Linked DNA regions of Homo sapiens. The protein of the gene in region 2 purifies or fractionates together with the protein of the main gene of each other region. This does not show direct contact. Each region holds a gene or a part of one and is shown on either strand. Other genes may lie near its edges. The genes, in order: PTAR1 and PGGT1B.

What was found.
Region 1: the proteins of PGGT1B (region 2) and PTAR1 fractionate together in Homo sapiens (co-fractionation; one large-scale study listed by BioGRID). This does not show direct contact.

What each region holds. Positions count from the first base shown.
Region 1 is NC_000009.12:69,708,858-69,712,185, forward strand, and holds the end of PTAR1 (protein prenyltransferase alpha subunit repeat-containing protein 1), read right to left. Parts: 3' UTR 668-3,328; downstream 1-667.
Region 2 is NC_000005.10:115,231,664-115,235,497, forward strand, and holds part of PGGT1B (geranylgeranyl transferase type-1 subunit beta), read right to left. Parts: intron 1-3,834. UniProt on the Homo sapiens protein: Catalyzes the transfer of a geranyl-geranyl moiety from geranyl-geranyl pyrophosphate to a cysteine at the fourth position from the C-terminus of proteins having the C-terminal sequence Cys-aliphatic-aliphatic-X.

The DNA.
Region 1 (3,328 bases), on a different chromosome or scaffold from region 2:
TAGTCAGTACTGCAATTTTAAACAATTGTACTTTGCCATCATGCAAAATAAATTTGATATCCTGTTTCCTACCCAAAATATACATAATAGTAGTGCATTATATAAAATGTAATCCTAAATAGTCAAGGGATAAAGTAAGATAGGTCTTTCCCATAACACACTTCTGAAATATTTAAAATTTGAGTTAAAAAAAGTATCCACTTTATCAAACACTTTTTGGAGTCTATCTATGTATTATATTGTGTAAGTAAGACCACTATATCTGGCTTATAACATACAGAAGTGAGACTCAGGATTGAGAAAACATAGGATGTAACACTAAAATAACCGAGTAATTATATGTGCTCTACAGCTTCATTTGAAATGGATGGGAAAAAGCGTATCTAGTCATAATAACTTTTATAAGGCAATTAGTCACTGTTAATACAATTTAAAAACAACTGTGGCGATATCTCTAATTTGTTTTTGACATTTCTTTTATGTTCTAGACATAGTGGCATTTTTATTCTTTCTACAAATGTAGGTCATAAAATTATTGGTTTCATTTAGACAACAGTTCACACCTCCACCCCCCTACCACCATCAAAGCAAATAAAATGGAAAGCTTGGTAGACTAGACTCAAGTTTAAAGCACCAAAAGTAAAAACAAAATCACACTTAACACTCATTTTAGGAGATAAAAGGTTTACTTAGAAATTGCAAACATTTAGCAAAGGTAAGACAAATACTATTTTCCATATTCTACAGAAATACAATACTTTATAGCTGGCTTGGTACATGGTCACATAAGAACAAATCTAATGGAAAAAGAATATTTCATTCTACTTTTCTGCCACTTATCACAGTGTAATAAGTGCCAGTAAGTCCTGGAAGACAGTTGCAGAGGAAGATTAGAATCCCAGGGCTGTTTGTTAATATACATGATTATATTGTAAGAATAATATAAAAACAAAATAGGTAAGATATACAATTAACATGCAATTTAAGCTATATTATTTTGAAGAAACAGGACAGAATTTAGTGAACGCAACTTAAAAATTTGTTAATGTAGTATAATCAGCATATCATGGTATTTTACATGGTATGGAATTATTCCTCCTTAATAATGCTTGGCAAATTGGAACAGGCTGATCCTACTTCTAGAACATATTAAAATGAAGATGAAGGAAAACAAGTGGATAATTCTATTAGATGCTTTTCTAAATATTCTGAATTTTTAAAGTACCATAATTACAGGCCTACCTCACCATCTCCAAAGTTAAAGTCATATTTTATACTCTATGAATCTGTACTGTCCAGTATAGTAGCCCTTAGCCATATGTGACTACTGAGCACTTAAAATGTGGCCAGTCAGAATTGAGATGTGCTGTGAGTGCAAAATACACTCAAATCTAAGACTTAGTATGGAAGAAAAAGAAGATAAGGTGTTTCATTAATAATCTTTTATATTGATTACATGTTGAAATGATATTTTTAATATACTGGGTTACATAAACTGTTATTAAAATTAATTTTGCTTGTTTCTTTTTTAATATGGCTACTAGAAAATTAAAAATTATGTTGTGGTTCACATTATATTTCTGTTGAACAATGTGGACATAGATAATCTACAGTCATTACATTAGCCTTAGAATTTAGCATCATACTTTTAAGCACTCTGGGGTACTAACTTGAACTCCCAGAAACCCATAAGCACACTCTGCATATAAATTATTGCAAAATTCATTCTTATCTCTCTGAAAGATATGCATTTTAAGGGTAAAAAGAATTCACAAAATATTGAATCCTTAACAAATGTCAATTAGTATATGGAGAGAGCTAAAGGACTTCAATGTAGACTGTTACATTGGGGAAAAACAGATCAAGAAACATAGCAGTACAACAGAGGGAAGACCATTAGTCTCTTCAGTAAAATAGTTAGCCAAACTTATCTTTAATGGCCAATGCCTGACCCTGCACCATAGATTATATATGTAACTTTTCCATTTAAACATAAACTATAAGAAAATCTTAAAACAATATTGACGGCAGCTTACTTATATCTTCAAGCAATGTAAAATTAACAGGCATGGTTAATTTTAATGGCAGAATATAGTAGCTGAGAACTTCTTTTAAATGAAAGCTCCTCCATGTTAAATTATGCAATTGACTAGTGTCCACAAAATTCGAGTCAAAAAAAAATTAGACGCTATTAAAATCATAACTGGCCTTTTTTTTTCTCCCTCTCCTTTTTTAATCTTTTGTAGTGTATAAATATTTGGCATACTTATAATACCTCATCTTTTATTTTTTCCAACTCAAAAACAGTAAGTTAATCTAAGAATGCATTCCATTATTTTCCTAAAAACAACATATGCCAAAGTACAATACTGACAGTGGTCACCTCAGTCAGCAGCCAGCATCGAAGTCATGCATCAAGAACCTCGCCAGGAGGCAATGCCTAATTACATTTGTACTATACACTCTGTTCCTCACAGTTCAGGTAGGAATGTTTATTTGTGTTTTATAAAACTGTTTAATCTTTTTACATTAGGTAAACTCTGTCAAAAATGCTTTGAAAACCACAAATTAACAGATGCTGAGACTACTGTATCATTCACAAAAAGTTCTTCCTCATGCCAAAGATGTTCTGAGAAAACAAGCAGAAGTTTATTGTAACTTCACATTTTACCATTACCACTCTTAAGACGCTAGAAACAAGTAAGATTTAAGGAAAAATAAAAAGAACCTAAACCCGATAGTACTGGATATACCAATACAGAGACTGATTGCAGAAGACTACAGCAGTTCTCTCTAGAGTTCAGCCAGCTGCTTATTAAGACATTTAATTACATTTATTAATATGCCTTGCACAAGAAAATACTACTTAATCTTTCACATCTCCTATCTTTCAACTATGTTCTGTATAAATAATACTTCTATTACGTTACTAACTCCAGCTTAAATAAGCCTCATAAATCATGTCAAATGATATAATTTCAAAATTCCACACATATATTACTCTACAAATATACTCCTTGGTGAAAAGATGTCAACAGTCTCCTTTCTGAAAGCTGTTAGTTTGATGTTAGATCAATCACTGACTAAGCATTTATTGAGCATCTACTATAACTGTACCCAGTCTTTAACTAATAAGAAAAAAATACCTGCTCCAAATGCAAGATGATATTTGTAAGGGAGGATAATTTATCAACTTTTTCTAATAGAATGCTCCTTGAATCAATATCTGCCATATGAAATTATATGACAAGTAAACCTCAAATTTATTACCTATCACCTTATAATGATAAATAAGCAATCTAAAGTATGCTGCATAGTACCTTGAGGA
Region 2 (3,834 bases):
CATGAGAGGAGGGGAGCTAACAGTAGTTCTGAGATTGATCTAAAATCACTGCCTAAGAGAAAGTCCACCCTAAATATGAGAAATACAGGCAGTTCTCACTTTGCACAGTTCTCTTATGCACACATTCCAGTTGCCATGGTTTAGCTAAATAACACAACAAACTTCAGTAACCACAGCAGCATATTAACCATAATTGCAAAAAGTACAAAACTCCGTTGCTGGCTCTTCACTCTGCAAATCACTACATAAATAACACATGTGCATCGCGATCAGTGATCAATCATACCACCTTTTTCAAAGTCTGTTAGGAATTGGTCATTGCTCATGTTATTCAGTTCACACACAGATAGCAGACTGTGGTTGTGTTCTTTGTCTCTCAGTGATAAACCCACATGATGTTTTATTAAAAGGCATAACAGAAAGAGGGGCTTGGCCAACAAAGATGAAAGTGCAGTAAAGAAATAAAAAGCATTAACACTGGGTATGAACTTAAAATTAGAGTTATAGAAGAAACAGCTATTACGGGAATGTTGATAATATTGCTGTTTGAGACTCTAGGTATACCACCAGAAGAACTAAGTGAAGGTGAAACATCTATAAGCAAGGGAAGAGCTTGTGATAAAAAAAGAGGAAGATGTTCTAGGGAACTGCTATGGGCAAAAAAACTTCACATAAAAGGAATTCTCAGCGACTTCACAACACTGAAAACACAAAACACACAACGTTGGAAGCTGATAGAAACTTAGATTGTGGTCATTTGCCAAGACACAGAAAAAATACTCCATCTTATAATTTATATAATGAGAAGAAGGCAATATTCACAATATTTCTAATGTTTTAAATTATAGTATACCATATACTGATTTTACTATTTAAAACATCATAGTATACTATATACTGATTTTACTATTTAAAACATCATACATTTATAACTGACAGGAAGAGTTTTCAAAGTTTTGGCAAAAATTTTAAAGGTCATAAAACAATCATAATTTTTCCCATTGATGATTAAAATCACCTTGTATCATTTCAGCTTGTGTGGTTATCATTATAGTATGGCACTGTCATGCAAAATGAGGATAGCCTGTTCAGAAAGAGGCCTGGTAAACACAGCACTGGCTATATGGAAGGCACTTAAAAGAATGTGCAAGTCAAAGTGGCAGGGCTCAAAGAGTGTAAATTTTGGTGAAGAAAGTTAAAAAAGGAGGGAGAAGCCCTTTGAAAATCAGGTGATAAAGGAAAGCTCAAAAAAGCAAAATTTAGATACCTGAGAAACAAAAGAGAACCTTTTTCCTATCAGAAAAATCATAGAACAACCCCAGCTACAAAAAAAGCCACCCAGTAAAGAAAGCATACTGCATTACAATGAAGAGAACAATCTTAAACTAGGAATTCTTATCAGAAAAAATAAAAATCACTAACATACAAAGTAACTCTGAGATGAAAATACAGCAAATGAAACGCTAACACCTAAGTATATGAAAATCTGCCTCTACTCCCAAGAAATAGGCATGAATCAGAAGAAAACTGTAATGTAGCACTCCACACTCAAATACATACCCTCAAACAACCATTTGGAAATAAAAAACGAAATTAAAAGCTAAAAACAGATGAACAAACAATAGAAATAAAAAGAGAAATAGTGTTAGAAAAGAAATAGAAGAAAAAGACAAAATAAGAAATAAATTTTAAATTACAGGATGACTAAGGAAGAATAATCTCAAATGAAAATACAAGGGACACTGAAAAAAGGAGAAAACATCCAAGAGAATAAAAATGAGATAAGTCAAAAAGGTCAAAGAGAAAGTGGCTGAAAAGAAGGTCAGGCAAAAAAATAAGAACAGACACTAAAATGGAATTCCTAAAAAGAAAAAAAAGAAGGAAAAAAAAAAAAAGCAAATGCAAAATAATGGACTAGAACTAGGGGTCAGCAATGGCCCAAAGGCTAACTCTGGCCTGCAGTCTGGATTTGTATGGCCCTCGAGTTAAGAAAATGGTCAATTACACTCATAATAAAAGAAATAATAAAATGAAAAATCATGAGAGGAGGGCAGCAAAATTAAAAATATACTGAAATATCACTTTTCGACTACCAGAAAAAAAGGTAAAAACAAAAAAAGTATAACGCTTTTTATTGGTGAGGCTATGTGAAAACAGGCACTCTCTTATATTGGTAGGAAAACAAACTGGTCTATCCTTTTTGGAGAGAAAATGGGCAATCTCTAATAAAATTACATATGCATTTACCTTTTGATCAGGCAATTCCACTACCAGAAATTTACCCTGAAGATGTATCTATAACAATATAGAAATATATATGCAGGAAGTTATTAATTACAGCATTATTTGTAATTGCAAAATATATGCTCTAAATGTAGAATAGCTGAAAAAAACCATGGTACATCTGCACATCCACACAGTGGAGTAATATAATAGGAAACTATAAGAAAAAGAGAAAAATCTCTCTGAACTGATAAGGAGTAATTTTCACATTGTATTGGTGTTTTTTTTTTTCTCCCAAGCTATATTGTTAAGTGAAAAAAGCAAACAGCAAAAAAAAAAAGAATATGGTATGCTACCTTATGAAGAAAGGAAAAGCATTAAAAATATCCATATCTTCTCATCAATAAGAAATGTAAGAAAGATAAACTGAAAACTAACGAGAATAGTTACCTACAGGGTGACAGGGAACAAGATGTTAAGTATGGGAGTTAAGAAGAGGGGGGAATACAGGGAGGGTGAGGGGCAAGGAGTCACACTTCTCTGTATATATCTTTTTGTATAGTTCTGACCTTAAGAACCAAATTAGTTTTTCACATATTAAGTAAATAAATAAAGTCAACGAAGTTGTGGGCAGGAGAGAGCTAAGTGAAGGAAAAGCCTAAAATGGAATTCAAAGAGAAACAAATAACCTAATGGTACTTCAAACAGATAACATAACCATATTAAAGGGGGGAAATAAAATAAGTAACTGGAGTACTTCTTAAATATAGTACTTTGACTATATGCCCTCAGACTCAAAACAAAAAGAACCAATGTATTCTGGGTAATAGGAGCCAGGACTGCTTGTCACTATCAGAAATGGAGTCATAAATGAAAGGACGAAAGTTAAAATGAGCCCTGTGGTGTTAAGACTGAAATTTGAGGCATCACGATAGATTCATGATTTTAATATATAGACATATAAATAGATACAGAAATATAGATTCTGTGTGTCTGTAAGGGGATGCCTATGTACACATACATTTCCTATCTCTGCCCGAGAAAAGGCCTAGAAGTAATGACATCGCAATACCAATGAGCATACTTAGTACCCAGATTCTAGTTTCTAAACCCTATCCTCCAACAAGAATAACCAAGGCTCCTCAAAGAAATGACTGATTCCAGAGCTGAGGATGGAAAAGTAGAAGATAAACCTGGAATATCTTGTGCCAGAAAGCAAGGAGGTCTTCAAAGAATGAGGGTAACATGTCAAAAGGGCATAGAGCCTACTAAAAGGGGTTCCACAGGCCTAATCTAGGACAATCTGAGCATCAAAATAATGACAGTAACAGATTACAACCCACTGAATAAAATAAGAAACTGAAGTCCATAGAGATATAAATAAGTAAGTATAAGTAAATAAATAAATGCAGAGAGAAAGTTTTTTTCAAACAGTAGAATTTTAACTGATATTTATAGGAAGGATGCTAGAGCTGGAAAATCATCAATGCATACTAACAACACTATTGGATAAAAATTTGATTAGGGACTCACTGAATATTTAGTCTCCAGGTATCTCACCACAAGATATTCGGTAATTACAAAGGGAAAAACACTAACTTTACAGAGAAA